2 linked regions of the Homo sapiens genome follow. The protein of the gene in region 2 purifies or fractionates together with the protein of the main gene of each other region. This does not show direct contact. Each region holds a gene or a part of one and is shown on either strand. Other genes may lie near its edges.

Region 1 (16,137 bases), on a different chromosome or scaffold from region 2:
TGTTTTAAATTGACTCTATATTTCAAATTTATTTTAAGATTAACACCACAGCATGTTATTTAATCTCTTGTGTTTTTGTAACAATCGCTTACTGTAGAATAACTATTTTAATTTCAATCAAAAAACAGGAGTTAAATCAGTAGTCAACGCCAGTGTGATTTTATCAGTTTTCTTACTAAACTATATTCAGAATGATTAGATACTTTAATATTTGCAAGCAAACTCTATAAAACTCTGTGGAAACATGAGGATTTTATTATCACTTCAAAAAGACTGTCTACAACTTTGGAAGAACAAGACAGATGGAAAAACTGCTTGAGCCCATGAGTTCAAGACCAGCCTGGGCAACACAGAGAGATCGCTTTCTCTACCAAAAAAAAAAAAAGAAAAAGAAAAAGAAAATCAGCAGGTTACTATGGCATACGCCTGTAGTCCCAGCTACTTGGGAGGTTGAAGCAGGAGGATGGCTTGAGCCCCGGGAGGTAAAGGCTGCAGGCTGCTTCAAGTCATGATCTCGTGACTGCACTGCAGCCTGGGTGACAGTAAAACTTTGTCTCAAAAAAAAAAGGAAAAAGAAAAAAGTGTCATCAGCTTGTTGCAATGAGATGTTTTGCCTTCTATGATTCCAAGCCACTCTCCTGTCAACTAAAGCTACCTTTAAAAACTCAATCACTTAACTCTTCAGATCCCCAAAGATTTACTTTTCTATTCTCCCTCTCCCCTTGCATTTACCTCAATGCTTTATGATTATGTACCCATCTGTAGAACTTAAAGCAATACATAATTTTATTTGAACCTTAAAAACCAACCTCTAAATAAAAGCCAGTAATACTGCTTCCATTTTACTGCTAAGAAAACCAAGTTAAAGGACTTACCCATATTTACAGGATTAATAAGTAACAGTCTGAATTTAAACCCACCCGCTTACAGTGTCTCCAATATAACTTCAACTCTCAACTTTCTCCTTCCCCAAATATACTTCTGTATCAACACACCTATACTCATTTTTATTCTTATGATGTTACTACCTTCCAGAGATTATAAAACTGAATATCAAGGTTTGGATGCACAGAGTTTGTGGTGAAAAACATGAAAATAAGATAAAAAATAGTTGACTGTGCTAGCTGTAAACATTAGCACGTCAAAGTCTTTATGCAGATGATTGAAAAAGTTAAAAGAAAATGTTTTTAAAATATTGTAAAGCTATAATATTTTTAAAAATTAAAACAGCCCACACTACTCAGGAGTTATGTTTGGTCAGTGTAGGAGAGATCCAATTATCAAAAAGCAAATACTGGGACTAAGATGACTGACCTCTTGATGGCTTCTCAGGGCCTGTGTCCATTAGTACTGATAAATAAACCACCAATGAGTGTTCTTATGTAGCTATAAAGTTACTTTGAAAATAAAAATAAATCACTACTTTAGGCCTGGCGCAGTGGCTCACGCCTGTAATCCCAGCACTGTGGGGGACTGAGGCAGGCACATCACAAGGTCAAGAGATGGAGACTATCCCAGACAACATGGCGAAACCCCATCTCTACTAAAAATACAAAAAAAAATTAGCTGGGCATGGTGGCGTGCGCCTGTAGTCCCAGCTACTCGGGAGGCTGAGGCAGGGGAATCACTTGAACCTGAGAGGCGGAGGTTGCAGCGAGCGGAGGTTGCAGTGAGCCAAGATTGCGCCACTGAATTCCAGACTGGCGAAAGAGCAAGACTCTGTCTCAAAAAAATAAATAAAATAAGATAAAATAAAAATAAATAAATCACTACTTAAAAAGGTACAATGCATTTTCAAAGATAAGGTATCTTTCTGATCTGTAAGAATTATACGATATGGTTTATTCAAGCAATAATAACATACTTTTCCTGAGAAACACAGATTGAGTCTTCCTGTTAAATCAAATCTACCCCAAAGCTAAAAGTGAGAGCTTAACTTCAGATTATTTCCACCTACTAAATTTAGAGTTTATCCTTTTATGTCTAGACACATACCAGAAACTATTTTCCTTTTTTATATATGAGAAACCAGCCAGGAGTACACTTTGGGAGGCTGAGGTGGGAGGATCATTTGAGGCCAGGAATTCCAGACCAGCCTGGGCAATACAGTGACACTTCATCTCTACAAAAAAAATTTTTTTTTAAATTAGCCCAGACTTGTGGTGCACACCTGTAGTTCCAGCTATTCAAGAGGCTGAGGTGGCAGGATAGCTTGAGCCCAGGAGGTAGAGGTTTTAGTGAGCCAAGATCACGCCACTGCACTCCCAGCCTGAGAAACAGAAAAGACTCTGTCTCAAAAAAAAAAAAAAAAAAGCAAGAAAAACCTTTAATAGGCATTTTGGGTTCTTCACTAGCACCACTTTCCTTTTGCACTTCTCTTCAAAAGGTGATTTATCAACATGTGATAAGTTAGTTTCTCAGTAATATACTGCTTATTGTAAATGTTTTGAGTATAGAGACAGTAAGCAAGATTTGCATTCCTGCTCCTCCCTATCCAATGCCCATAATAGTTCAAACTACATTTATCTCAAAGATGACTCAATACTTTTCAAAGAGAATTGAATAAATTTGGAAGACTAAGCATTCAATATGGATGCAAAAAATAGAATATGAAAGAAGGGAAAGAGAAGAGTGGGAGAAGAGGGAGAAAAGAAATTTCTGTATATTTTCAATGATTAACTATAATATTTTGCTTCTCACAAGAATGTCAGTTTCTTGTCAAATAATTCTATAATTTTACTTAATATTAATGCAAAAATTTACAGAATTTCCATGAAATGTAAAATGGTCATTTACAAATGGAATAATATGAAGAATTAAGTTTATTATCCTATTTATAAATAAAATGTTAAGAGCACTAATCTCAGAACTTTTGTGTCCCATATAAAATTCAATACATCTTAGTAATTAAATAGTTGGTCCAAGAGCACACCACCTAATACTAAATTTAAGGGGCACCTAAGCCTAACTAGTTCTTGAAACTACTGACATTAATAAGCAAAATTACCATAAGAAAATTATTTTTGTAAATTACCTAGAATACATATATACAATATTCTTAATCCTTTTTTAAATAAGGAGCCACCTGAAACAGAGTGCCAAAATCTTTATATAAATCAGCTTATAAAAATAAAACTGATAACAAGTTTCAGTGATAATATGTGATTATCCTGGCTAATGCTTATTTCCATTAAAGAGAACTATTATTACCAGGGTCATTAAAATTAAATCTAAACTTCATCAGTGAGTACATTTGCATGACACCGCTCAAATAAGCACATATGAATTTTGTGGCAAGAAGATACAACTTTCATTTGTTCTCTGAAATTCCAAGTATTCTAAAAACACAGAATACTCTAAAAGTACATTCAAGCATGGTTTTAAAAGTTCTTTTTTGTAGTCTTTTGAACTACTGGATCATAAATTTAACAGCTCCTAAGTTAGAAAACATTTTACTACTGAAAGAAAATTTCTCACTAATATCAAAGTTATATTAATATCCCTGAAAATTACTGACAGAACTAATCAACTATGTGTTTCTCCAAAACTGGAAGCTAGCTCAACTGCAACACCGTCAGTTGGGAAGCCTAATATATTAATATGAATTAAATAAGTCACAAAGTCAGTAACTTAAAAAATAAATAAATCACTTAAGAGTAATATCAAAGAAGTAACAAGTATTATTTCTTATACCCTTGTATCACACAGACATTCAGTAGTATGCCTTTGGAGTAAAAAGCTTCTCTTGGTCAAATGAGAACCAAGATAGACAAGTGCTGCCTCAACTGGCATTTTCTGTTGCATGGTCTAATGCTGAGTTTCTCAATCATTTTTACCGCCACCCACCCTCATTCCAGTTGTCATTTGGCAATGTCTGGAGACATTTTGATCGTCACTAGGAGAGATGCTACTGCCTAGTTCCCAGGTACTTCCCAAACCCCTCCTAAGAATTACCATGTACATTCTTCACCTAGTGACAGTATCGATTAACCTCCCCATCTCAAATTGTAGCTTCAAACTGTCCTAAAGTGGAGCTCAAAACAAGAGGTCATTAAGCTGGGGTCAGAGATATGTGCCAAGCTCTAACGCCAGATGTTAAAAGAGAGAAACCCCAGCCTGGTCTATACAGTCAAATATTATGACTAAACAAGATTTCTCTGCCTGCCATTGCCAACTCGGGAAGTTGACTTAATACAAATCAATCAAAAGTAAATCTACAAAATGCCCAGTATGGTTTTAAATCAGAGAAAATGTCAAAAAGTCTGGGAAAGTCCAAGAGCTGCTAAACAAGAACTCGCATCAAAATAAACGGGCTTCAGGAGGAGCAAAGGCAGCATCCCTCCCAGAAGCGGAACCCCTCTAATGCCCCTCTCAGGTTAGGAGCCTGCAAATGGCAACAAAAGACATCTGCCAAGACAGCAGAATGAGGGGCCAGTTAACCCAAATGAGGAATACGCTCCTTAGGAGAAAGGAGAATCCTCCTCATTCCTACTCTGGCCCAGGGACCCCTGCATGTAGCTTCCCCTTCTCTCCTTTCCAGATAGTAGTTTTATACCAATTCATCAACTTTTCCTAACCACTGTATAAAGGCTATGTTGGGAGGTGTTTAAATTTACCACTTACCACAATGGCCAGAATAGGGGGAGACACACAAGTTCTGAAAGGACAGCCTATTTTGCACTGGAGACAGTAACAACCTGCCTTTAGGTTAAGGCCCACCAGGGAAAATAGGAGGTTAAGTGTGATTTTGGTTTTAGGTGAGATAATGAATAGTGGAGATGTTTTTGAAAGTGTTCACTATGAAAAAATGCTATGCTAACCATTAATATACTCTGTAGTTTGAAAGACTACCACTGACAGACCAAAAATACCAATTTAAATCAAAATTTATCCAAAACATGAGAAGTTGGTTCTCTGGATTACTCCTCTCTCTACTTCCACCAATACAGCTCATGTGAGGTATACATGAGGTATACATAAACCGCATACTCTAGACAATTATTTTCATTTCTCAAACACCAAAAATGATTGTTCTAAATAATTTAGTCAGTTGACTAAAAATAGTTTTTAAATGCTAAACCTAAAAAGCCTAAAGAGTAGGAAAACTAAAAAACAACATATATGTGTAATCGAAATGTGAATACACTGATGTTTCTGCTACCATCAGTGGAATTTACTGTTTTAATTAACATATGTAAGGCTACAGATATTGTGATATTTAGGTGAAAGTTCTATATTTTCCATACCATTTTTGTAAGTAGTCCAGTGCCTCCAAACGAGCACCAATCTCAAAAGTGATTCCAGGGCGATTTGGGGGCTTTTTACTCATCTTGAGATCCTATTCTTCAGTATTCTCTTTTCACTACCTCAAGAGAAAGAAAAAAGTTAGATTCCAATGCAGAAAATGCATAGGAAGTAGAGTATAAGGGAACAGGTCAAATTAAAATTAAACAGAATTTCTAAAACAATACATGAGAATATGAAATACTTGCCAAATTGTTAAGAAATTTGAAGGAGTATTACCAACATCTCTATATAAAGTTCTGTGCAATCTGCAGGCAATCTTGATAATGATTTAAGAAAAAGAACAAAGAAAACTATCTAAAAAGAATGAGTAAATGGACTGTTAAAAATTGTTAATAGCTAAAAATGCTTTACATTTGAGCTTCCAGATACCCAAGAAAATTCTCCACGGGGAGAGCTGAAAATGCTTTCCTGCCTTTGAAAAATTAAGACAGCTGAGTGTTCTGGAATAGGACTACTGAAATTCTTGAGAACAAAATCAATTTTTAATTTCAACAAATATTTGTTGAGTGCCTCATAATACAAAACACTAGATAAGGCCCTACAGCACACAAAGATGGAGGAAACAGTAGGCACACTCCTCTGCCAGTGAAGATACCACTAATTCCTCTTGGGATTAGGATTTTTCATTACCCATGATCTCCCACCTTGGTAGCACATAATTCAATAATTTTAATTTAACATACAGTATTACAAAAGAGACTGCTTTCTTATACTTTACATTCAACAAGCAATAATAACATGCTTTTGTTAACTGAGTATTTCTACTATATTTCAATTTAGACAGTGTCCACATTGATAATAAAAGTGGTTGTAATGCTAGAACAAAAACTGCAAAGGAGTACCTATGTATCCCTAGGTCATTCACATGCAAAGTACTATATTTTGGGCCACAGTGGCCACCGAGCACACTTGAGGTGGCCTCTTTTTCACTAATGGGTATGTGAGGAATATGAATACATTTTGAGATAACCTAATCAAAACATAACTCATAATTAAGAATGTAAATTGATTGTTATCAGGGGCGAGGAGAGATCCGTAAAATGTCTTTCGGTATTTGAGATCACTAATGACTATGTTCCCTACAGTTTAAAAAGAAAAAAAGAAACACACACACTTGTCATCTTTTATAATGGTTTTGTCACAATTCATAATAGACAAAATAGAACAACAAACATAAAATTCCAACTGCTCCCTCTTTTCTCTTTGAAAGAGTCTGATAGGTAAGGGAAAAAATAGCATCAATACTGGCCATGAAAATATGCGAACTCAAATACCCATGGTTGGAGGGGGAGAGTGGGTATCCTCCTGCTATGGTATAAGCAAATATTAGAGCATTAAAAAGTTAACAGGGAGCTTGCCCAGGGTGTAGCTGGTGCAAAAGAACAAATGTATGAATATTTTTAATAGAGGTCTTGTCAGTGCGCAACACGTAAGGCAGTTACTTAAATGTTTGTGTAGAAATCGAATCAACCTTTTCTGCTGTCTGTCACAGGAAGAATTCAGTAAGGGATAGTTCACAAGGTACACTAACATCTAGAATCAAACTTAGAGCCCATAATTAAGTGATGGATTGAATGAGTATAATCCCCCAGTGACACTTAGGGATGAAGTACCAGAAAAAAAACAAGATTTTCCTTTGTCTTAGGTTCGAAGAGGGAAGGATGAAGAGGGATTTGAATTAAGGAACTTTCATAAAGTAAGACAGTCTACTGGGAGTAAAACTTGAAGCAAAAACAAGGCAGAAAGCACGGAGAGGAGTAAAAACAGTAAGGAAAGGAGCAAAGAATGGCAAGAAATAGGACAGTGGAAGTTTTCGGAGATGACAAGTTAGAGGGAAGAAGAAATGAGCAAGAAGACATAGAGACCGACAATGTAAAGCAATGGTCAGAGAATGACCGCCAGGCCAAAAAAGGTGAGGAGGTGAGGCCAGACAGAGAGGGGGTGGCACGAGACAGGCAGGAAAGGCTGACAGGGCTGGCAGGGAGCTGGAGAAGCCTCCAGGTTTGACAGCCATCCGGCCCTCCGCAGGGGGGTAAGGAAGGGAGGGGAAGAGGGAGCTGCGGCGCCCAGACAATAGGGCCGGCGAGTTACGGGGAGGGAGGCGGGAGGGGAGCGGGCCGGAAAGAGAGACACCAGAATGGGGGCGTCCCGGGCGGCCCGGCGGGGGCCAGGCGGCCTGCCGGCTCAGCCGCCGCCGCCTCTTACCGACTCGGCCTCCTCTCTGCACAGCAGCCGGGCCGTCCGGGGCCGAGCTGGGGCACGAGCAGGGCGGCCAGCCCGGGCCTCTGCCTCTGCCTCCGCCCAGGCAGCGGCCGGGGAGGGAGCAGGAGCGGAGCGAGCTGGGGCCGCAGCGCCGGATCCGCCCAAGGTTTCGCGGGAGGGAGCTGGGTCCGAGCCCTCAAGCTCGCTCAGGGTCCGCTGCCATCGCCGCCGCCGCCGCCGCCTCCGCCGCCGGCCAGCCCTGACGCGACGCCGGGCCCCGGCGACGTCAGCCGCCCGCGACGTGCCGGAAGCGGGCCTGGCCTTGTCACGTGACTCACGAGGGTTGGGCCCGGGCCGCGCAGCCGATTGGCGGGCCGCCGTAGGAGGCGGGGCTTTGCGGTCGTTGACGGACCGCTAGCGGGCGGGGCTCTGGTTACTGGAGGAAAGAACGCGAGCTCTTGGTGCCTATTGGTAGTTGTGAAGTATTTGACCTTTGAGATTTGAGGACGAAGGGCATTGTTTATTATTCTTGATTCGTTGGGAACCACGTCACCAAAACCCCTTTACCCAGGACCCTTGGCAAACTTTTTCAAATGCATTACATGCTTTCTTAGATATCCATCCCACTCCACATCAAGAATAGAGCATGGTTACTACTACAAAATCAATAAACCTCCCTTGAATGGATGCTTTGTGATAGACACTAGGCTGTAAATATGTCACATGACAATCACAACTGTACAACTGTATTACAATTGTATTGCTTTCCAGTCTTGGAGATCTTTACAATACAAAGACGAATATTACTAAGATGTGTGTACGCGCGTGCTCAGGCACAGCTGAATAACCTTAACCTATGGCTACATTGATATCACTTCCCCAAGACTACACAGCTAATGATAGCAGAACTGCTTTTATCGAATACCTACCCTCCCAAACTTTACTAAGCACAGGAGACAGTATCCTTGCTGTGGGGAGAAACCAATAAGTGAACACATTGAAAATAATATTGAAATGAAACATCTTTTTTCTCTTGGTTTCCACTGTACCACTCTGGTTTTCAAGTGCAACGTTGCATACAAATGTCACTTATATTTATCTTGCTTCATAGTGTGGAGTTAAAATAGCAAAGTAACTCTCTTTAAGCTTCAGTTATAGTAAGATTTGGTAAATTAAACAATCATTCTTTTTTTATTCAACAAACATTCATTCAGCATCTACTAAGTCACTAATAGCTACTGAGCTAGACTGAGCATGGTGATACATAGAAAAGATATAAATAAGACAGTCTCTAGTGGATATTTGTTATAGAAAAGATATAAATAAGACAGTCTCTAGTGGATATTTGTTATCTTGTTTTTTGGTTGCCCAGCATCTCAACTCTCTTTCCATGTTTGAGAAATTTCTCATCATGGTTGCATTAGTTCAGAACACCAAATACTTGTAGCATCTTCCTTAGGACATGACAGGATTATACTTTCCACCCTCCTTAGAATTATGTATGGCTATTTGATTTGCTTTGGCTGATAAAATGTAATTAGAAGTGAGATTTGTCATGGCCAGTTGGTAATTTTTAATGCCAGCTCACCAAAGTTTCTGTCTCTGGCACAGTGTAAAGCACTGCTTGAGATGATAGCTGCTCTACCATCCAGGTTCTAGACAGATTATGATGAACCAAGGCCTCACTGATAATCTACAACTACTGTGTTGTATAAGGAAAAAAATAAATATTTATTATTTTAACTATGGAGATTTGGGTGCTGGATTGTTTGTTACATGGCATAATCCTACCCAAACTAAATGATACATCCACCTTATGAATCTTGGATGCAGAATCAACCTCCCACTAAATAAGATGAAAATATCAGAAACTCATGTTTCCAGTCTCCCTTGCAGCTAAAGTTCTAGCCTCAAGTAAAACTCTTTTACCAAGGACTTTGTATCAGAAGTTGCTAATGATGTTCAAAATAAGGAAACTTTTCTCCCACATCTGTGGCAGTACCAGTATTCAAGTTTCTGATGGTCAGCCTGGAGTTAAATCTTTCTGAACTCTGGCAGAACCCCTGCTGAATCACAAGCTAGTGACTGAGAAAAAATAAATATCTATTATTATACACCACTAAAAACTTGAGGTTATTTGCAATTTAAATAAAATACATACATAAAGAACAACAGATTCTGTCCATTCTCCCAACTATTTGTTGAGAATCCACCCTGGAAAGATGATTGTTCCATTTTAATTGGAACTTGACAATGGGTCTTCCAATAATGACACTTGAAAGAAAAAAATAAAATAAGGTCTTATGTAAATGATCCCTAGCTTCAGTGAATTGTATAGGCTTAGTAATCCTCTGTGGAGTTAATACCGTCCCCTAGAGGGCACTTTGGAAATGGAGGATGGTATTTTATTGTCTCAGGATTGGGGTAGGGCACTGCTACTATTTAGTGGGAAGGGACCAGGGCTGCTAGATATCCTGAAATGCACAGTGCAGTTCCATACCTTGAAGAATTGCCCCAGGTCATGCATGACTTCTAGATGTCCTTCCAGACATTCATGTAGGTGAAAAACCTGTTTATAATTGTCCCTGCCTAGAACTGCATTTCACATATAAGTATTTTTGGAAGGTTTTAATATACATTAAATTTTACAGGAATGAAGCAACTGTGTAATGTAAGGAAACACTGACCTTTTTTCTGAACATTATCAAGAGTCTATCTCATTTTAAAATATCATGCCACCAACGGCTAATTACTCATAGTATTTGAGGCACTGATAGAATGCACCTGTGTCAGTCTAGTTGCGTAGCTGTTACATTTAGGGAAATCTAAATTTAGATACAAGCACCTCACTACTTCATTATATATTTCTGTGATACATGGATGAATGTTAAGTATTGAAATATATATGATTTTTATGAATTATTTTCATAAATTTTTTATATTATCATAGTCATATTGATTTTTAAGTATATATGTATAGCTTGGTTATGTTATTTATGAAGTTAATTTTGGGAAGTGGAGAGGGTGTGAATATAATATTGACTCTAAAAGGAAGGCACTAAGCCTGATAAAACTGACAAAAAATTCAGGTAGGATGTCATTTCCTCTTTTAACCACATAGAGTCAAAGGTCAGGATCAGAGTAGGGATACAGGATATACAAAATTCTAGTACTGACTCCCTGGCCATGTAGTGAAGCCGTGCATTGATCTGTCCCTTCTCCTCTCTTCCACCCAGCACACCCTGTTCCAGATGGTTGATGCCCAGCCATCAGTCACTCCATCTCCAAATATAGAAAGAAAGAACTTACAGCTGTGTTTGAGCAGAACCAAACAAGCAGTGAGCAAATTATCTTGAAACAACAGTTGTTAGGCAGAAATCACTGAACTAAATTCCTCCAACATTAAAAATATGAATATGGAACCATAATGTCTCCTGGAATATTTAACAAATGTATACCTATTTTAAGGTAGGAAAAAAAGTTACTACTAAATACCAGATACTCCTTGATTACAAATAAAACACAAGATAGCTATTTTTTGTGTGTTTACTTAATATTTACAATTAGCATTAGTAAAGAAAATCAAAGCAGTTCAAGTTTTTTTTAAGGTTAGTTTAGCAGAAACGTAAACTACTGTGATAGCCTCTGTCAAATCTCTTCATTCCATGTGCATAAAAATCTTTGAAAATAGCACTGACATCATTTTCCTCACCTGCCAAAGAGCTCACTTATCTTTCCTCTGTCACCATATCCCTTTATCAACTGAACAGAAATTATAGTTATTCCAGAATTAATCCCTGGCAATAGGAGCTCTAGGCCATGTATGAATTGGCAGAGATGTCATCTCTCCCAGTGTTCCCGCAGCATTTTTTTCACCTCTCTAATGTATTCCTCACTGTGATTCGTAGGTTTATATTCCACTTTCTTAGAATGAGCCAACTCTAAGGATGATAGGGTGTTCCAGATTACTTTAAACATACTTATATATACAAATAAAATAAAGAAATATGATGTTATTAAAGTAAATAATAATACATATATATTATAAATACAAAGTACATAATATTGAAGTAATATATATTACTTTGATATATATGTATATATGTAAGTTTATGTGTTACTCAGTTTACATGTTACTCAGAGCCACATGGATCTCTGAGATTTTTAAAACTTTTAGGCTTGGCAATAATGATTCTAAGATATCAAAGTCTCTGCTACTAAGGGTCATAAAATAGAAAAAATATGTATGTCTATTTCAGCAAATGCAGCAAGAGAGACAAAGAACTCTTTTGTGTGTGTGCAGATTACCATGAAGCAAGAGAGTGAACAGAAAATTTATCATCCAACCCTGAACACTTTTGAGAATGGAAGGAAGGGCTATTAATAATTATACCAGAATGACAGGTGGATCCTGGACAGTTCCAGACAAACGGAGATATCTGGTCATGACACATAAAGCAGGAAGAAATAATCATGAGAAATTAGTAAAGATTTTATAAATAGAAGTACATTGAATATGGAATCCACTCGTGATACTGCAAAGGATTTTCACATTTCTGATTTAGGACAAAGGATGGTCTCTGCTTCCTGCTGCTATGTGATACTTTGCACCTCTCCTGATTTTTATCATTGTTAACTAGTGTCTCTTGCATTAACTATATCAGTATTTCTCAAGCTTTGGTCTGCCAATTATCTGCATTATGGAGATGTGCATATGGCTCAGGGGCACTGTTTTAACAAGATGGTCTGTTAAAATGCAACACTGTTTGATAAAATTCAAGTTCCTGGGCCCTGATTTATATCTTAGGTTTGGGGACTGGAAATCTGCATTTTAGCAAGCTACCCTAAACAATTCATACGTACATGAAATATTCAGACCCGCAGTGTGTGAGGATTCTTTTTGTCGCATGTAACAGAAAATTTTATGAAAACAGGCTTAAGCAAAAAGGGAATTTTTCAGTTTGGGGAGTTAATAGAAGATAAGGAATAAGTCTGCCTTCTGTGTGAGTTTGATTCAGTGAAAAATTATAACATCTTTCACTCTACTTCTTAAGGTTTAGCTTGATTCTGGGGATCCCCAACAGCTTAAGACATTACAGCATCCTGGCGACCGTAAAAACAAATACTAGGAGTCTTTCTCTCACTGGCTGAGATAAAGTTAGGTGCCTAAATCTGAACCAAGTATGGTGGCCATGGGGATGACTTGTACTGATTCGGCTTAAACTGGGTTCCTATTCCTATCAGGCAGGTAAGCGTGAAGACTGGTCCAAACCTCGTGGACTGAGCGATGGGAATGAGTGGGTTCTTTAATGCAAAATTCGAGTGCTGTTACTTAAAAGAAAGAGACTGGAATTTGGACAACAAAATAACTAATATTCAACACAACTGTAACTCCAAATTACAATTTACAGCCATTCAACAAAGCTGAGAATTCTCTTCCTAGCTTGCAAAGTTAGAAAACCAAGCCAAATGAGAGACAAATCTAGTGAGAGATTGACCTAACATTCACATTCCTAATCTGTAGGTGTTTGATTTTAGAGATAGTCTCTACAACGTACAATCCCCATTTCCGTGGATTGTTAAAACTGCAGCAGGAGAGGGTGAGCAACAGAACACAGCAGCTATACAAATTGACAGTCACCAAATGGTGAATACTTTTACTCTCTTAGTGATCATTCTTTTCGTTGAGAACAGAGCTAGCAGCAATTTAGTGGCATCCTGAAATATGGCAGACAACATACATGCATGCATGCAATATTCATTTATTTGCATGCATTCATTCATCATTAATTTATTTGTTTAATCACTTAATGTCTTAGTTTGTGCTGCTATTTAAAAAATACCAGAGACTGGGTAGCTTAAACAAAAGAAATTTATTCCTAACAGTTCTAGAGGCTGGGAAGTCCAAGATCAAGGTGCCAATTGATTTGGTGCCTGGGATTCTTCCTGGTTTGCAGTTGGCTGCCTTCTCACTGTGTCCTCACATGACAGACAGAGATCATCTCTCTCATGTTTCTTCTAAGGGACTAATCTCATTCATGAAGGCTCAACCTTCATTACATAGTTACTTACGAAAGGCCCCACTTCCAAGTACCATTGCATTGGGGATTAGGGCTTCAGTATATTAATTTAGGGGACAGGGAGACACACACAGTCAGTTCACAGCACTCAACAAACTCTTTTTGAATTCTTACCTAATGCTAGAGACTGGGTGATGTAGAGTAAGGGAACAGGAAGAAAAATAAAATTAGATACCCATTCAAAGTTGACTTGTCATGATGCAGATATGGATACAGAAACAACTAAACACAATATGAAGCTAAATATAAATCATTTTGAAATAAAGATACTATTGGAATATGGTCATTCTGACTCGACAAATCAAGAAAGACAGCATAGAAGAAGAAACATTCAAAATATGCTTTGAAGGATGAGTAAGCTTCAAATAAGAGTTCTATGCAGACTTTATAATTATTAATGCCTTACACTTCTTTATAGTTTCAATTCAAGAACTGACAAATGAAAATATTCTACTTCCATTTCTTTTCCACATGCGTTTATTGAACATCTGTGGTGTGCCAAGCACACAGCACTAGTTTCAGGGAGCATAAGGGATAAGCTTAATTCCTGATCATTGTTAAGACATTTAACAATGTAGACATGTAGACAAACATGCAAACAGATAACTTCAATACATTGTAAGTGTTAGTGTGGAAGAATGTGCAGGGTCAGCATTTGGGCTCTAACTGGTCACTCACAATTTGTCTAAATGTCTGGCCTCTTGGCCAGGACCAGAAAGCAATAACACTATCTCCAAGGTAATTGTGGACATTCAAATGAAATAATTCCCCTTCTGCAGGAGGGAGAGGGAGCAGGGAAGGGGCAGATAATTTGTCAGCACAAGCATTGCACAGCTCGTGGTTTGCCTTAGTCAAAGTATTGAGGCAACACACCCTTGTGGTCAAGTATCGGATTACTTCCTCTTTTGGATTTTGCAAAACATTCAACAGAGCCAGTTTCACCAGAATGAGGAGAAACACCCTTTGGTTTTCCTTCTTTTCTCTCCTATTTTTTTTTTATAACTATGTTGTCTTCAAAAAATGCTACAATTGAAAATGAACCCTGAGCAAACAGTAGGGATATACATATAGCATTTTTGAGGGACAGAATTCTAGTTGCGGGAAATATCCTATAAATCCTAAAAAGACACATTAGCAGCAAATGATCTGCCTGCCTCAGCCTCCCAAAGTGCTGGGATTACAGACGTAAGCCACCGTGCCCTGCTGAACACAACATTTTTTAAAGTAAAAGAGAGGAATGTAAATATTTGTGACCAAAGGAAATTTGAGAACACCAAGTATAAGAAAATCAAATCTAAAGGCAAATAATGAAAGTACTACAATGAATTTAACGATGTGGAAATTGTAGATTCTAAAAAGCAGGACAAAGCATCCAAAATCTCATTCTCTATCACTACCTGGACATGAACTATTCCAGTGTTATTACAAGGAAATTGAGGTGAGTCAGTTTAAATAAATCAAATCTAGCCTGTTTGGCCACTTTTCTGATTTCTGTGTCCTTTCTTAGTACATCACTTATAATTTAATTATTGTCATATTCTCTAAATACTAGTATATGTAATCCCCATCCCTACCCCCATATTACGTATAAGTAACATAATTGCTTAATGGCATTGTGATCTCGCAATGTCATCACAACTCATACCGCCAACATAATCTTTTTCTCATAAAGCTAAAGAGTTTGAAAGTTCTTCAGAGACATGCCCATGAATTATTCACCCGACACAGGACAGATGCCTAAGCAACAGGTTGTCCAATAAGCTCAAGCTGCTAGCAGTCAAAAACGAAGAGCTAGGCCGGGCGCGGTGGCTCACACCTGTAATCCCAGCACTTTGGGAGGCCAAGGCGGGCAGATCATGAGGTCAGGAGATCGAGACCATCCTGGCCAACATGGTGTGAAACCCCGTCTCTACTAAAATACAAAAAATTAGCTGGGCATGGTGGTGCGCACCTGTAGTCCCAGCTACTCAGGAGGCTGAGGCAGGGGAATTGCTTGAGCCCGGGAAGCAGAGGTTGCAGTGAGCTGAGATCGTGCCACTGCACTCCAGCCTGGCAACAGAGCAAGACTCTATCTAAAAAAAAAAAAAAAACCAAAGAGGTAGGTATGTCTCAAAACAATTATAAGCATGAATATTGACACAGGAAGCTGACTGGAATCAAATGCATGAAAAGTTGTTGATATGTTCTTAGAATAGAATGTACAGTCAAAGAGGTACCAGCTTGGTATCAAAGAGATTATGACAACTAAAAATTTCAAAGTTATCTTCCCATTTGCTAACTTCTACAAGCAGAAAGTAAGTTGAGAAGGTTGCTCTGCCCCCAAGAAACGCATATTCTCTAATCTTCAGAGGAGGCCGAGGAGAGTAATGGAAAAGGAATACTTTTACTTTCCAGAGGGCAGAAACAAGAGCCACAGTTGCCTGAGTTAATACCCCTGAGGAGCAGAATTAGAGCTCTATCAAGGAACATTCCCTATTCACAGGGTACAAGGCTTTTGTAACAACTGATCAAACTGATCATTCCGTTTCAGAATAGCCCCATTACTCTT
Region 2 (16,041 bases):
TGTGGGCTTCCCACCAGGAGTGGCACCCAAGGAGGAGAGAGTGGTGGCCACAGGAATGGTACGGACAATGGTGCTGGTGCCCGTGGTGATGGCACCCAGGCTCTGCATGGGGGTGGGCAACTTCACACTGGTGGCCTGTGGGACACACAAGCCCAGGTGATCAGAAGCTGTCGCCCAACAGCAACATTCGAGCTTGGAGGGCCCACAGCATATTATTAAAGGCTAACATGTATTGAGTGCCTACTACATGCAAGGTACTCTTCCAGGCATTTTGCATATATTATTTCATTCTTATAACAACTCTATGAGGGAGGTACTATTATTACCTCATTTTATAGACAAAGAAACAAAAACAGAGTGGTCAAGAAACTTGCCCAAGGTCACACAGTAAATGATAGACCTTAACTTTTGTAAGTTCCCTGCTATGTAGCTAGAAGGCTGTTTGTCCTTGATCCACTGACTCCAGACCTAGTTTCCCTGCCAAAACCAACTAAGCTGAGGAGGCCTCCTCCCTACACCTGCCCAGCCCAGCAGATGGCAGATGTGCACCTGTGGGGCTGGTCCTGGGGAGGGATTTGCTGGAAGGCCAGAGGTCTTGCTGCTGATATCCTGCAAGCTGAAGCTGAGGCCTTGGAGGAGGCTGCTGGCTGATGTGGCCCCTAAGAGAGGACATAGCAGGAATCAGTAGAGACTCAATCACTTGCACTATCCCGAGAGCAGCCACATCCATCCACCCTCACCACCAACTAAAACACCAGTGGTGCTTGCCCTTGGACACCCGTCCTCAGAGAGAAGGCAGGAAGCTCTCCCCAACTAGGCACACACGCAATGGATGCCACACAGGAAAGGTACTGTGCCAGACACTGCCCCGGACTTGCTCTGCACCTGCTGCAAACCATCAGTCATACATTTTAGACCATTTTGAGAAATCCAAGTTTGTTCCTTTCTTTCCAGGGAAGAACTTTTTAAGCCAAAAGAATTATAAATATCCAACTTTCACTTCGCCTCACACAATCAAAGCAGTAAGGAAGTAGCCTCAAAGCAATAAGAAAGGTTCTCTTAAAGGAAAAGGGTTTATTTTATTTTATTTTTTTTTGAGACGGAGTTTCGCTCTCGTTGCCCAGGCTGGAGCGCAATGGCACAATCTCAGCTCACTGCAACCTCCACCTCCTGGGTTCAAGCGATTCTCCTGCCTCAGCCTACCAAGCAGCTGGGATTACAGGTGCCCACCACCACACCCGGCTAATTTTTTGTATTTTTAGTAGAAACGGGGTTTCACCATATTGGCCAGGCTGGTCTCAAACTCCTGACCTCAGGTGATCCACCCACCTCGGCCTCCCAAAGTGTTGGGATTACAGGTGTGAGTCACCATGCCTGGCCAGGAGAGGGTTTCTGCAATGCCTTGGCCCTGCTGGGCTCAGGCAACAGGCCTTTCAAAGTAGGGTTAGTGGGTAGGACAAAGAGAGAGACAAGCACAGACAGAAAAATGTCTCATTTTGCTAATGCCCAGTGTAGCACCATTTCCAGTTTTATTCAGGCAGATGTGCTTAAAACAGCAAAGTAAAACCACAGTCAGCTCTCAATTATCTGTGAGCTTCACAGCAGATTTGCAGATTCAAACAACCACGGATAGAAACCTGTGGATATAGAATTCCAACGGTATGACATAATTTCATATAAGGGACTTGAGCATCCATGGATTTTGGTAGTGGTGAGGGTCCTAGAACCAATCTCCTGTGGATAAGAAAGGCTGACTATACATATATGTCCTATCGGCTATTTCTCCTTACAGTAGAGGATACAGCACCTGTAGACTGGAACATTTACTCACTTGCAGACCAGGACATTTACTCACTGCATTTATTCAAGGCCAAGGAATCCCTCTGCCCAAGCTAATTCCAGCTTCACGTCAAGCCTCTATGATCACTCTAAGACCCAGAGGCCCATCCTATGGATTTAGCTCCAGGGATGCTTTCCCAGGACCACCCAGAAGCAGCAGACCAAAAATTCTGTGTTGGAAGGGGAGAATGCTGGGCCACAAGATACCTGGGAGGGAGCTGCCAGGAGATGTGGCCACCAGGCGGCTCTGCAGTGTGTGCAAGGCACTGGGTGCAGTGCTGCTGGAGACCACTGAAGGGACTGGGCTGGCTGAGACTCCACCTTCAGAAGAACTGGACCTGGAGACAAAGGAAGGAGCTCTGTTATCCAAAGGTCACAGGACAGCAAGCCCTAGCAACACTGGCAGGGTACAGAGTGGGGCCCAGCAAGGCTTTCAGCAGCAGACATACACCAAAAACCTTCAGCTTCTTTGTCCCACTTTCTGTACCTGGCCTCTAGTCTTCTAAAAGTCCTTACTTACAGGACTTATAGCAAAAGCCAGGGGACGATTTGGAGTCTTAAGTAAAAGTGAACTCTGGGTTGACTCAAAAGCAAGACAAAGATCCCAATCAGAAGTAAGTCACATTTCCAAAACTGACAAGAATCCAGAATCCATCATTTTCCAAAGCACTAAATAAACCAGAAACAGAGGGAAGGGAAAAAAGGAATAGACACAGATGGTCCAATAAACACTCACTTGGCTGTGGTGAGAAGTCCTGTGAGCTCCTTGGCCCCTGCTGAAGCCTGCCCCAGTGTCATGGTGATGGGCTTCCCACCTGCAGCTTCAAAACAGAAAACCCCAAGGCCCCTGGTCAGTCCTATTTGGCCTCTATGTTTCCAGGTTCCACAGCTTAGGCTAAATGCAAGATATTACGGACGAAAACTGGAAAATGAAAAAAGATGAACTATGCTAGAGTAGGGAGAGTTGGGGTTATTTTTTCCTTCTATTTTCTAAACTTCCTGAAATATTCTGTACCTTTAATTGAAGCCAACAAAAAAAGAACAAAATATAGGATGCTTTGAACGATGGCACAGCTTCCTCTCATATTCTGCCTGCCTGGTCCTCATTCAGATGGACTCATGCCAACTTTACCCACATGTACAGACTCATGTCTTCTTTGCTCCGGGCATCTCTCAAAATAAAGCAAAGGCTGACATGCTGGTGAATGGCCACCAAAGGGCAATGCTGTGTACCTGAGAGAGCTCAGTTCTCATTTAACGTACCAAGAGAAACTCACCTTCTGGAGCACTTCCTTGGGAAGGAGCACAAGGCCCTCCAGCTGTGTCCCCTTGGGAGATAAGGGACACCTTGATCTTCGGTCGTTTGGAGGTCTTACTGCCAGGAAGGGGACTCGAGGGATGGTGTCGCTTCAGCTGAACCCTAAGATCCTCTTTCTCTCCTTCCTCTGGTGGTTCTGATGAAATGGGAACTAAGACATGGAGCTGAGTTGAGATCCTCCACAATCCAAAAAATCCCAACAGACACTCAGTCAATACCAGCACCAACACAGCCATGTGTAGAATGTAGAACACACAGGATAACCACTCTACGTACAGGGCCACCCCTCAAAGGAGACTGCCCATGCTTCAGGACCACTTCACTCAGGCCCTGTCCGTGGGGGACCCCACTTTGCCCTTCTTAGAGGATGGCACCCTTCTCATCCCTCATCCTGCACTGGAATCGGAAGAGAAGGGGCCCTGAGTTGGTAGGAATTAAAAGACAGAAGACATCCTGACCCTGCCTAGCCAAGGCCAATGGCAACAACAACAAAAATAGAGGATTCAACAGAATGAGTAAACAGTCCTTCTCAGACTCAAAAAATGTGATCATCTTCCTGTCTGAAGCCCTCCCCACATCATCACACAGTTGGAGACATCAAACATTCTATGAGAACTCATGGAGGAGCAGGTCATCCAGTCCTCTCTAAAAAGTAGAGTTTTCCAAAGGCTCTCAAGAGTCCCACCCTGCCCTAAGAGCCCACAGTTGAGGATCCACTTGCCAAATGGAGGCAATGAAGAGGAGTGTCACCAGGACTAAAAGCTGGCTATGAGTAGCTACTAGGAGAGAGAGTACCTCAACCAGGCAACCTCACGGCTCCCACCCAAAAGTAACAGGGCAACACTGGCCCATGTCACAACCTAGTCCCCAGGTCATGTGTACTAGTACAGACAAAGGCCATCTGTTCACACATGGGCTTCCACTTCCACTGAATCAAACAGGCTCATCATGTATACAGCCAAGCTTTTTGGACTCTTAGGTTATCTTTCAAGCTTCCTCAAAGATTCCCTCCTCTTTAAACCCAGAAGTCCACCCTAGTCCTCTTGTAGCACAGGGAAGCAAAGACTGGTGTGGGGAGGAAGGTAGCAGTCACATGAGGAGGGAGGAGGGGTCCTGGCATGAGGCAACAGTCAGGACATAACCAGCTAGAAGGATTGCTTAGGGGACAAATGCACTGGCTAAAATCAGAGTAGGAAGGAGGGTGTAGGGGAAAGGAGTTTCAGGTTCTATGCTGATATGTGGCTGGTAGGCTTGTAGCCACCAGATAAACACAGGACAGGAGGCAGGGAGAAAAACACACAAGGAAACTGAGACTCAGGCAATGCCACAGACATACAAAAAAGCAGCAGAGCCAAGACCGTAGTGAAAGAAAGAACCACACTAAGAGACAAAAAAGAAAACACCATGAGAAGCAAACAAAAGAATGGAAAAAGGGCAAAGACTACAGAGTAAGCAAAAGGGGTCAGCAAAACAAAAGAATACAAAGAAAGAGAGAGAAAAGAACAGGAGGAAACCAAACTGAGGCAGATGAGAGGCAGAGATGGAAAATAAATAAGGGGTTGAGGAGCAGAATGTAGTGGACGAGCAGGCAAGAAAGAGTAATACTCACCAAAGAGACAGGAGGAGGTGCCAGGAGGAAGAGCTTTCCTCACCAGCATATTTTGTTTCAGAAAAGCAGCAAACTGTGCTGGAATGAATCAGAAAGAATTACAGAATCACAGCCAGCCAGAGAAGGGAGAAAAAGAGAGGGAATAAGAAAAAAGGTTGTAGAAAATGGCCAATAGGGGCTCCTTCTGAAATTACTGCATGGCAACCTGACTCTGCCACGGAGTCAGTCTGTAGAAGCATCTAAAACTGAATAGTACTATCTGCCTCATGGGGCCATGCCAAAACTCAACAAACTACAGCAATGCGAGTGCCATGAAGAAGGCATGGCACACAGCAAGGACTCCATATATGTTCGCTATTAGTATTCCCCGTTTGCCCATCAGCTCTGCTAAGCCAGGGTTCTAAAGCTGCTACTCTCCCCCATGACACCCTAGATCCCCATTTCAAACCCAGCTCGCCAATCAGCCTTCCAAACTCCTTAGATTCTCAACTAATCACCCTCTGCAGAAGCACAGCAGACCACCAGCTCTGTCTTCTTCAGAAGTGTAAAGACACACTGTCCACACGGGACTTGGCTCTGGCCACCACTCATGAAGATCCATGGCAGAGCATCCGCGCAGACCCTTGGGGCCTGGCCTCATTTCTCAACTCCTCCCATCCACTCACACTTCTACTCCTTGTTAGTACTACTCTTATAAGCAAACTCACAAGAGGTCTGGGTTTCGGTTCTGATCATTTGGCTCCACTAAAAGAAACACAGGGAAAGTAAACAGATGAGCCTCCTATCCCCTCCACGTCTGTCTGCCAGACAGCCAGCTCTGGCTGCTGCCTCTTCCCAGGCACCCCTATTCCTGAAAAGCTCAGGTGACATGCTCCTGGACACATCGTTAAACACCAATGCCCAAGAGGCCTTACCTCAAGGCCACCCAACTGGATCAATGTGGGGGAAGGGGGACAGAACCACTGTTTCTTCTTTCCCTACCCAATGAACTCTCCCTTTTCTATAGCTCCTTTCATAGCACTCGCAGCTCACCAAACTCTTACTTTCGACTATAGGAATACTTCCCAGCTTCATCTGAAACCTGTATGCAGAGAACCCTGATAAACTTCACTGAAAGTCTCAGTGTGAGAATCTTAACGCTTCAAGGGTCAAACAAAGAAAGGGCATGATGCCAGGTGAGTTACCCTAGAATCTGATTAATAAAATCAATCACCCAATACATATGATTGGAGAGCCCCGACTGGAGGAGTGGCTGGCAAGGTAGAAAAAAGTTTAGGCCAATATACATGTTCATAAAGCCTAGCCTCCCCAGAACAGCAAGACAAAGCTATAACTAGTGATCACAAAGCCCCACTAACTCAGAGGCCTTGGCATTCATTTCAATAATTAATTTTGAATTTTGCCTGCACAGAAATGTGAGAAAGGGCGCCTCTCACATCCCCCTGAAAAAAGCCATAGATATCAATACTGTGCAACTGCCATGTGACATGAACTACAGAAGACAGACCCAAGAGGAGCCACTGGCCAAGTGCCTATACCTTGAGCTTGTTTGTGGGTCAGCACAGCTTCTGTCCGCTGCACATGTCTCTTCAGCAGCTGAGAACTTCCAATCTGACTGGACTTCTGGGCAGAGGTCACTGTGGTCACTTTGGTCTTGGGACTGGAGGTGGGGCTGCTGGACACACTGGAGAGATCCTGAGTAAGGTGAGAAGGTCAAGAGATGAGACAATGTTACTAGGATCTGACCATGAGTCAGCATGTCCCTCTGGAATTCCCCTTGTAGGAACTCACAGGCCCATGGCACTAATAAGACAGAGGCATCCCCAGGAAATTAAGGAACCAACTCTGTGGTGCTGATTCCCCAGCAAAAGCGCTCCCTCCCTGCTCACACTACCTCTGAGCCTGAGGGTGAGGCGGGCAGCTTGGCAGCTGGGGAGGCAGGTCGACTGCCCCGCTCAGGGACTTCAAAGGCCAAGTCTCTGCGGGCCACATCGCGGGGCTTCTTCTTCTTCTCAGCATCCTGATCCCGAGGTTCAGAGCCCATGTGACCCTCAGCACGAGTGAGCACTCCAGTCAGAAAGTCCACAATCTCATCCTAGTGTAGAGAGGAGCCAACCAAGGCCTTTTAGTCCTCATCTGGAGAATGGGAACCTCTCATATACTTTCCAACTAAAACAGATTCTCCCTCAGCTCTGGCATCCGCATGTGCCAGTCCTTCCCCACTCAAACAAGGTCTGGCGCAAATCCCAGGCTTCTGAGCAACTGTGGTTCAAGAAGACCAGCAAGTGCCTCTGTCAGGGGGAGCTCTGGGGTGGTCACATTCCACCACTTTTCCAACACTCTCCCCCGTGATGCTTTGCTTACATTAATTCACCACTCTCATTTTTCTTTTCTTTGCTTATGACTGAGACCTACCAGAGGCCCCAGTGGAGGCCTTAGAGCCAAAGAGACCACTACCAATAAGACCAAACCTAAAAGGCTACAGAAAGGCAAGCCTAGCTGAGAAAAGCACACAAAACAACTGTTTACCTGAATACATCTGTCCACCATGCTCTGAGTCAACCCTTCTGATTTCTTCTTTGCTTTGCTTATTCTAAGAAACAAAAAGGATGACATGTTTACTTCTTACACATTGCACGGCATCCTATGAAAATAAGAACGTATTTCTTTTCTGGGTTGTTTATTTTCTAGCCCCAGAAGGAGGGCCATGTTAGCCTTAGGCAGGTAATGCAACCTCTCCGAACCTGTTTCCGTGTCTGCAAAATGGGGAATCATAACATCCCATTCATGGAGTTGTGGGGATTAAACAAAATAACATATGTAAAGAAACCAAGCACAGTGCCCAGGACAGTCCGCTCCAGAATTCCTATACCTATAGCTTAATAGATCAACTCTATCCAGAACTCAGGAGGCGGAGGTTGCAGTGAGCTGAGATTGCACCACTGCAGTCCAGCATAGGCGACAGAGCCAGGCGCCACCTCAAAAAAAAAAAAAAAAAAAAAAAAAAAAAAGCTCAAGGTCGTGAAAGACAAAGATGGAGGAACTCTATCAAATTAAAGGAGACTGAGGAGACATGGCAACTAAATCCAAGTGTGATCCTGGGCTGGATGCTGGACCAGAAAAATGACATTAGGGAAACAACTGATGAAACATGAGTCTGTAAATTACAGTATCATGTAGATGTTAATTTCTTGATTTTGAGAATTACACTTTGGCTATGTAAGATGTTTAACATTTAGAAAATCAGGTGAAGGGTATATAGGAATTGTTTTGTACTAGTGTTATAACTTTTTATAAATCTGAAATTTCAAATATTAAAAAAGGTTTTTTTAATGCTGTCTTTTTTTAATTTTTTTTTTTTTTTGAGACAGAGTCTTGCTCTGTCACCCAGGCTGGAGTGCAGTGGCGGGATCTCGGCTCACTGCAAGCTCCGCCTTCTGGGTTCACACCATTCTCCTGCCTCAGCCTCCCGAGTAGCTGGGACTACAGGCGCCCGACACCAGGCCTGGCTAATTTTTTGTATTTTTAGTAGAGACGGGGTTTCACCGTGTTAGCCAGGATGGTCTCAATCTCCTGACCTCGTGATCCGCCTGCCTCAGCCTCCCAAAGTCCTGGGATTACAGGCGTGAGCCACCGCGCCCGGCTAATGCTGTCTTTTAACTGAACCAGACTGGTCTGTAGTTACATTGCCAGCTTCCAGGCTTATCTCTAACACTGTAACACAGCTCTCTTGCAGCTCTGGGAGAATCCACCCACCTGAGATTGTCATCAGCTCCCCCAACCACCACCAAGCTGTTCTCAGCTCGAATCTTCTCCCGGAAGTCCTCCATGGCTTCAGGGTGACATTGAAGGGAATTCTGACCAATGACAAAGAGGACTGGAGTCTTCATATCCAAGAGGGGATCATCTACATCCTAAAACAGGTATAGGTTTTAGAATCGGCTTCTTCATATTCACAAAGCACTGACCCAGAAACTCCACTAAGGAGGATCAGCCATGCAACTGCAGTCAGCCTCAGCATCAGCTTGGACAAGGCATGCACACTCGCGCTCCCACTGCCAATGACCCAGCACTCAGCTTTACCACATTCTTACCCCTCTGGGGCCATCCACAGTAAGCAGAGGAAACCCAAGGCAGACAACTGCAGTGACATACTCCATTACTGACACCTGTAAATAACAGAACAGTTTGTCTAAACGTCAACTGAGTTCATGGCACCTCAGCCTACCCAGAATCCAGGAGTGGTCCAGACCCACCAGACAGTCTCACCTCTTCCTCTCCTGTCCTAATATCCGGGTGCATCTTCTGCCACAATGGCAGCAGTAAGAGCACAAGACACAAGGTATGTCATTCCATAAGCAGCCACTACCTAGAGAACTGGGGCCCTAAGAGGACCCCAGCAGGTGGCTGAACCATAGGATAGAAGGTTCAGTATTCCTACCCTGTCAACCCCCTCAACTAGAGCCCTCCTGCTCCATTTTTCTCCACAAATAGTAAATATAGTCAAGAGAACACAATGTTGCCATTAACCCTTAAGTGAAAAAAAATTCTCTCTATTGAACTTAATGGATAGCTACCAGACAGCCTAGATTTCTTGGAGCAAACTGCTAAGGCCTAACACCCTGGGAGCAGGGACTATGGGGACCTTCTTCCTCTCATAGCTATCACACTTGATTGGACTGCATGAAGCAAAATTAAGGGTTTGGACATGAGGGACACTTACACAAACTGACAGACATACAAATATATGTAAAATACGAAAAGATTCCTTGATGTCTTGGAAAAAGACTGAAATGAACACAGCATCAAATTCCAGAGCTATTAATATTTGCCAGCTACAATTACTGTTGTTTTTTAGGTGGGAGAACAGTATGGTACTTATGTTTAGAGAAAAAAAGGGATCTTTTTTTTTTTTCCACAGATATATACCCATATGTGTGTGTGTGTGTGTGTGTGTGTGTGTGTGTGTATGTGAAAATGCTATTATATTTGGGATTTTCTTCAAAACAATCTAGGGGAGAAAGAAAATGAGCAGGGTGAGATGAAACAAGCCCAGCCAAGAGTTGATCACTGGTAAAGCTGGGTGAGGATCCGGGGGTTTATTATACTACACCTGCTTTTGTTTCTGCTTAAAGTTTTCCAAAATAAATTAAAAATTGTTTTAATAAAATTTGTCTTCTACAGTTTAAAATGTAATTATATAGGTAAAGTATCTAGCGCAGAGCCTGACACACAGTAAAGGACTCAATGGTAGCTATGATTAGTGGTATTCCATCCCAGGACAACCTCCAAATAAGATAGAAATTACTTACATGACAGGCCACCAAAGCTCCTGTGTTCCAGCCAATCAAGATAATGGGTTTGTGTGGGAAATGGCTGTGAATCTTCATGGGAAGAGAAAGAAGACAGTAAGACAGGAGGCCAAAGATAGGTGCAGAACAACCCCAGAATGCTGGGTATGCCACAATGTACTGAAATACGGGCATTCTCACCTCCAGCACTTTGCTTCTCACTGCCCCAATCATATGCTCGAGACACTGTAGAACTCCTACCCCACTGCCATTGTTCAGCAGATGGGTGGCTACAGGGATGACCTGAAGGAAAGAAGTAGCCCCCACACCAGCAGAGGTAAGTTTCAAATCTTTCAATTCTGTTTAACCTAACCTAAACCCAAAACCTTGGAATTCCACATGAAAGAAGGATTAGAGGAGGCTCCACATGAAAGAAGGGTTAGAGGAGGCTCCACATTCAAGTTACCCATTTTGACCTCCTCCCACATATTCTTCTCCTCAATCCTCCAAGACTATATTCCCTGCCAGGAAGGAGTTCCTCTTGCCCCCACACATACCTTGCCCAAGCAGGACAGCTGAGATTGCCAGAAGCGGTGGCGGCGTGAAGTGGGAAACACAGAGCTGGAGGGACCAGAGGAGGCGATGAGAATCAGCGGAGAGCCAGGGAGTTTGCTCTAAAGAGGAAGAATCCCACCCAAAAACCAGTGAGTGAGAAGTGTCCTTTCATGAAATTCCAAGTATCCCAATACCTTTCTCATCCCAACCAATGCTCCTTTGCTTGTGAAATTATGTTAAGCACTATGTAAAATAAATTATTAATAATAGTTAAAGAAGCTGGCCAGTCATGCTGGCTCACACCTGCAATCCCAGCACTTTGGGAGGCCAAGGCAAGTGGATCACCTGAGATTAGGAGTTTGAGACCAGCCTGGCCAACATGGTGAAATCCTGTCACTACTGAAAATTAGCTGGGCATGGTGGTGCATGCCTGTAATCTCAGCTCCTCAGGAGTCTGAGGCAGGAGAATTGCCTGAACCCAGGAGGTGGAGGTTGCAGTAAGCTGAGATCGTGCCACTGCACTCTAGCCTGGGTAACAGAGCAAGATTCTGTCTCAAAAAATAATAATAATAATAAATAGTTAAAGAAGCCATTTATCCTCCTGCCAAGGTTCTAAGGCTTGAGTCTAAAATTTTTATGTACCATTGTTAAGTCCTGAGCCATCCAACTTACTGGTTTGTTATGAGAAAGCACACCCACAGCAGGGTCCCAGGGCCTCTTCAGTAGGAGAGACAAGGCCTCAGCTCCTGCAGCCCCAGTCTTTGTGTTGGATGACACAAGCATCCGGTCAATCAAGGTTGGGATCTACAAAGAAGAAAGAGCAAAGATGACTCCAGTGTAAAGCAGGAGACCTTCCACCACCAGCAATCAAGCAGAAGAACAGAGCCCCACTATAAGCCATAGACAGACTTCAACTAAGCCTCTGAAAACCTCCTAAGGATCAAGAATATATATAAATAAGCGGGTGAAAAGTATGCTCCCACCATGAAAAGTGAATGTGTACAATCCTTTGGAAAGCAGTCTGGATATGCAGCAAGGGACTTAAATGTATTCCCATCCCTTTTCCAAATGTTTCTACTTCTGAGAACCTTTCCAAAGAAAACGTATCAGAAACAAAAACACACACAAAAGGATGGGGACAATTATGCACAGAGACAAATTAACTATGAATAATAATAAAGTAAAAACAATTTAATATATATGTGCATATGTAAGGGAGTAGTTTAGTCAACTATCTACCTAATTGGATATTAAAGATTATTTTCGAATATTTACAAGAATTTATTTATTTATTGAGACAAAGTCTCGCTCTGTCGCCCAGGCTAGAGTGCAGTGGCCTGATCTTGGCTCACTGCCACCTCTGCCTCCCGGGTTCAAGCGATTTCTTGTTTCTCAGCCTCCCAAGTAGCTGAGATTACAGGCGTGCACCACCATACCCAGCTAATTTTTTGTATTTCTAGTAGAGATGGAGTTTCACCATATTGGTCAGGATGGTCTTGAACTCCTGACCTCAAATGATCCACCCGCCTCAGCCTCCTCAAGTGCTGGGATTAAAGGCATCAGCCACTGCACCCAGCTTTCAAATATTTACAAGGATATATAATAACACACAGAAATAATTTTGCTAAAATGTTACAGGTAAAATAGAAAATATAAAGATTATCTCTACTCAAAGCTGGGCTCAGCGACTCATGCCTGTAATCCCAGCACTTTGAGAAGCCAAGGTGGGCAGATCACTTGAGGTCAGGAGTTCGAGATAAGCCTGGCCAACATGGTGAAACCCTGTCTCCACTAAAAATACAAAAATTAGCCAGGTGTGGTGGCGCACACCAGTAATCCCAGCTACTTGGGAAGCTGAGGTCCGAGAATCACCTGAACCCGGGAGGTGGAGGTTGTGGTGAGCCAAGGTCATGACACTGCACTCCAGCCTAGGCAACAGAGTGAGACTCTTCTCAAAAAAAAGAAAAAAAAAAAAAAGAAAGAAAGAAAAAAAGAAAAAAATTATCTCTACTCCCCTAATGCTAAATGACGAGTTAATGGGTGCAGCACACCAACATGGCACACGTATACATATGTAACAAACCTGCACGTTGTGCACATGTACCCTAAAACTTAAAGTATAATAATAAAATTAAAAAAATAAAAAAAGATACATTAAGTGGGATAAAACAGATTTCTAAACAATGAATATAATAGAATCATATTTTAAAGAAAATATGCTGCACACCTGTAGTCCCAGCTACTCAGGAAGCTGAGACACGAGAATCGCTTGAACCCAGGAGGCAGAGGTTGCAGTGAGCCAAGAGTGTGCCACCGCACTCCAGCCTGGGAAACAGAGGGAGACTGTCTCAAAAAAAAAAAAAAAAAAAAAAAGACAAAATGTTAATAATGATCTCTATGGAGTTTATGGGTGACTTTTTCCTTTACAGATTTCTATGTTCCCTAAATTTCCTCAATGAGTATCAGTTGATTTTATAATATTTTTAAATCTCCATTTTCTTCTAGAGTACTGCCTTCAAGCTGTGGTGTACTAAATAAATCTGTTATTATGTACAAAAATATATATCCTGCTATACTATATACAGTGTACTTTATCTCATGTCTGTTTTTTACTATCTACCAGAAATGTGACATTACAGATGTGCAAATATAGGTTTCAGACATGTTGATGCTTACACTGAGAAGAAATATCTGCGAATTCCATGCTACCCACAAAAGGTCAAAATGACCTAGGGGAAAGGAAAAATGTTTAAATATTAGAGGCAGTTTTCAGAGAAAGAAAAAGGTTTTGAAAAATTGGAGAATAAAAAGTACTACGGTTTGATGCAAGTTGTAAAACTCCAAAAATAGCAGAAGATAAGTTGCTCTTAATTTAAAAACAGGGACACTAAAAGGATTTCTGTATGAGAAATTAGAGAATTATAACCATTAGACTTTCTCAGTTTAACTCAGGAAAGAAATATTCGTGCAACTGCTTTTACAAGGTACCAGGCTAGTACTGCAGAGGAATTTAATCTACAAGAGGTAAGGAAGACAAACACACAAATAATGGTGGGGGACAGGAATAGGGAAAGACCGATAACTGCCATGAAAGAAACAGAAGCCCAAACTGCTATGATTCAAACCACCCAATGGAGAAGAAGTTAAGAGGCAATTTTCATCTAAAGATACAGCATGTGAAATGAGACAGGCTCTTTGGAACAGGCAGGATTCCAACAGAAGATGAGAGAAAAGCCTTCCCATCAGAGACACCAGCAAGAGGCAAGAATGTGTAGAGCTTATTCCAGGCACAGATGGACAAAAGTCAAGGATGCAAGTAAGGAAGGAGGAGGATGTAAAAAGCCAGTAGGAAGGATAGGACCAAACCGCAAAGGATAAGACCAAACTGCAAAGGATCTTCATGTTCTTTGTAACTCACTCTAGAACTGTGAGCCACTCAACACTTTGAGGCAAAGGATGTGACCCTGGGTTAAGCTTTATCTAACAGTAGTATATAGCTTTGAAACCAAAAAGCCTTGACACTTGCTTCCTGTCAACAAGGGATAAAAAATCAATACTGACTTTTCCACTTGGAGCTGGGAAGACCAAGCTTCCCTGGCCCTTCCAGCATTGCATTCACTCTCAACAGCCAATTAAAAGGCTAAGGTCTATACCTTCTCTGCCCTCTTTATCATAATGGATCTAATAGTGAAAGTAGCTGGGTGAAGAGCATGATCCCATCCACCTGCGCTTTCACATCCAGCAGGCACTTTAAAAGTAAAACAATCCTATAATCATTTATATCCTTTGGGAAACAACCAAAGTATTTGTTGTGAATCTAAATATAGTCATGGGAAAATAAGAGTCCGATGGCAGAGGAACCACTGCGGAGAGCACAGCCCAGAGAGGATGTTGCCTTGAGTCTGAGGCCCTTGCTGACTGGTGTACCAGCGAGCCTTCCACTATTCCAGTCAACCCACACCGTGGCCCAGCAGCATGGGAGGAAAACACCCAACTATGCATGCTATGGAGTCCCCCCAGTGGTCTGCCATGCTCATAATATCCGACATGCACCCAGGAGATGTCCAGTCAGTAACTTAAATAGGGCAGCAGTACAAATTCCTCCTTAAAGGGAAATTATGCTAGCCACAGTGAGTGAAGCAGGGTCACCAGAGAACTGAGACCCTGGCCACTACCAACACTCATCTCCTACAGTGTATTCACCAATGTTACACTTTTACCGTAGGTAGAATGCTGAGGAGAACATATGTGAAGATGCCTACGATACTTCTGGGCCACCACTCTCTGTCTGCCAGGATCCAGTCTGGGCCCCACACTCTACCTGCCCACCACTCACCTCCCGGGTCCAGGGTTTCTACTACAGGGGAGCAGTACAGGGGAAAGTCTGGGACTCCCTTTTCATTTGTCTCTTTCTTCACTAGAAAATACACTCCACCAGAGAAGGGACCAGTTTTGTTTTGCTCACCCCAGTACCTGACACACGTAGGGCCCAAAATAAGTATTAGTTAAACAAAAAAACTAGTGTCAAATTTCCTACCATGAATATCATTAATGTATCTAGTCCTGAGTTTTATTTCAGCACTAAACCAGTCTTCTAACAAACTTGGCACCCTTTAACTTAAAAACACATAAGAAACAATGAGTCTGCAAGTTTTGGGGATGTGGCTGAGGGAACGTGTTGGCCAGGCAACTTACAGCAGCAAGATGAGCCAGCTTCCTGTGAAGCAGAAAGTAAAACTATTAAAAAAAAAAAAAAAAGTGTCAAAAACTGAATCATGCTTATGCCTGTAATCCCAGCAATTTGGGAGGACAAGATGGGAGGACTGCTTGAGGCCAGGAATTCAAGACGAGCCTATAGCAAGACCGTCTCTACAAAAAAATTAAAAATTTAGCTGGGTGTGGCAGGGCACGGCAGCTCACGCCTGTAATCCCAGCACTTTGGGAGGCCGAGGCGGGCGGATCACGAGGTCAGGAGATCGAGACATGGTGAAACCCTATCTCTACTAAAAATACAAAAAAAATTAGCTGGGCGGGGTGGCACACGCCTGTAGTCTCAGCTACTCAGGAGGCTGAGGCAGAATTGCTTCAACCCAGGAGGCAGAAGTTGCAGTGAGCCGAGATCGTGCCACTGCATTCCAGCCTGGGCGACAGAGTGAGACTTTGTCTCAAAAAAAAAAAAAAAAAAAATTTCTTTGCTGGGTGTGGTGGTAGCACACACCTCTAGTCCCAGTACTTGGGAGGCTGAGGCAGACGGATTGCTTGAGCCCAGGAGTTCGAAGTTATAGCAAGCAATGATAGTGCCACTGCACTCCAGCCTGAGTGAGAGAGGAAGATCCTGTCTCCAAAGAAAAAAAAAAAAGGCCTCAGACAACTTGGATTGATTTGGTTCTTTCTCTTCTCTCTCTCTCTCTTTCTTAGAGACAGGGACT

What was found.
Region 1: the proteins of KANSL3 (region 2) and PHF20L1 purify together in Homo sapiens (affinity purification with mass spectrometry; 2 studies listed by BioGRID and IntAct, with this or other methods). This does not show direct contact.

The regions. Positions count from the first base shown.
Region 1 is NC_000008.11:132,767,021-132,783,157, reverse strand, and holds the start of PHF20L1 (PHD finger protein 20-like protein 1), read right to left. Parts: upstream 7,771-16,137; 5' UTR 7,513-7,770; intron 7,220-7,512; exon of another isoform or gene 7,159-7,219; intron 5,367-7,158; 5' UTR 5,330-5,366; coding exon 5,247-5,329; intron 1-5,246.
Region 2 is NC_000002.12:96,602,204-96,618,244, forward strand, and holds part of KANSL3 (KAT8 regulatory NSL complex subunit 3), read right to left. Parts: intron 13,342-16,041; exon of another isoform or gene 13,289-13,341; intron 11,417-13,288; coding exon 11,285-11,416; intron 10,732-11,284; coding exon 10,615-10,731; intron 10,361-10,614; coding exon 10,259-10,360; intron 10,151-10,258; coding exon 10,079-10,150; intron 8,936-10,078; coding exon 8,861-8,935; intron 8,681-8,860; coding exon 8,523-8,680; intron 7,360-8,522; coding exon 7,296-7,359; intron 6,862-7,295; coding exon 6,661-6,861; intron 6,462-6,660; coding exon 6,305-6,461; intron 4,845-6,304; coding exon of another isoform or gene 4,767-4,844; intron 3,335-4,766; coding exon of another isoform or gene 3,309-3,334; coding exon 3,117-3,308; intron 2,661-3,116; coding exon 2,576-2,660; intron 2,178-2,575; coding exon 2,047-2,177; intron 660-2,046; coding exon 550-659; intron 136-549; coding exon 1-135. UniProt on the Homo sapiens protein: Non-catalytic component of the NSL histone acetyltransferase complex, a multiprotein complex that mediates histone H4 acetylation at 'Lys-5'- and 'Lys-8' (H4K5ac and H4K8ac) at transcription start sites and promotes transcription initiation.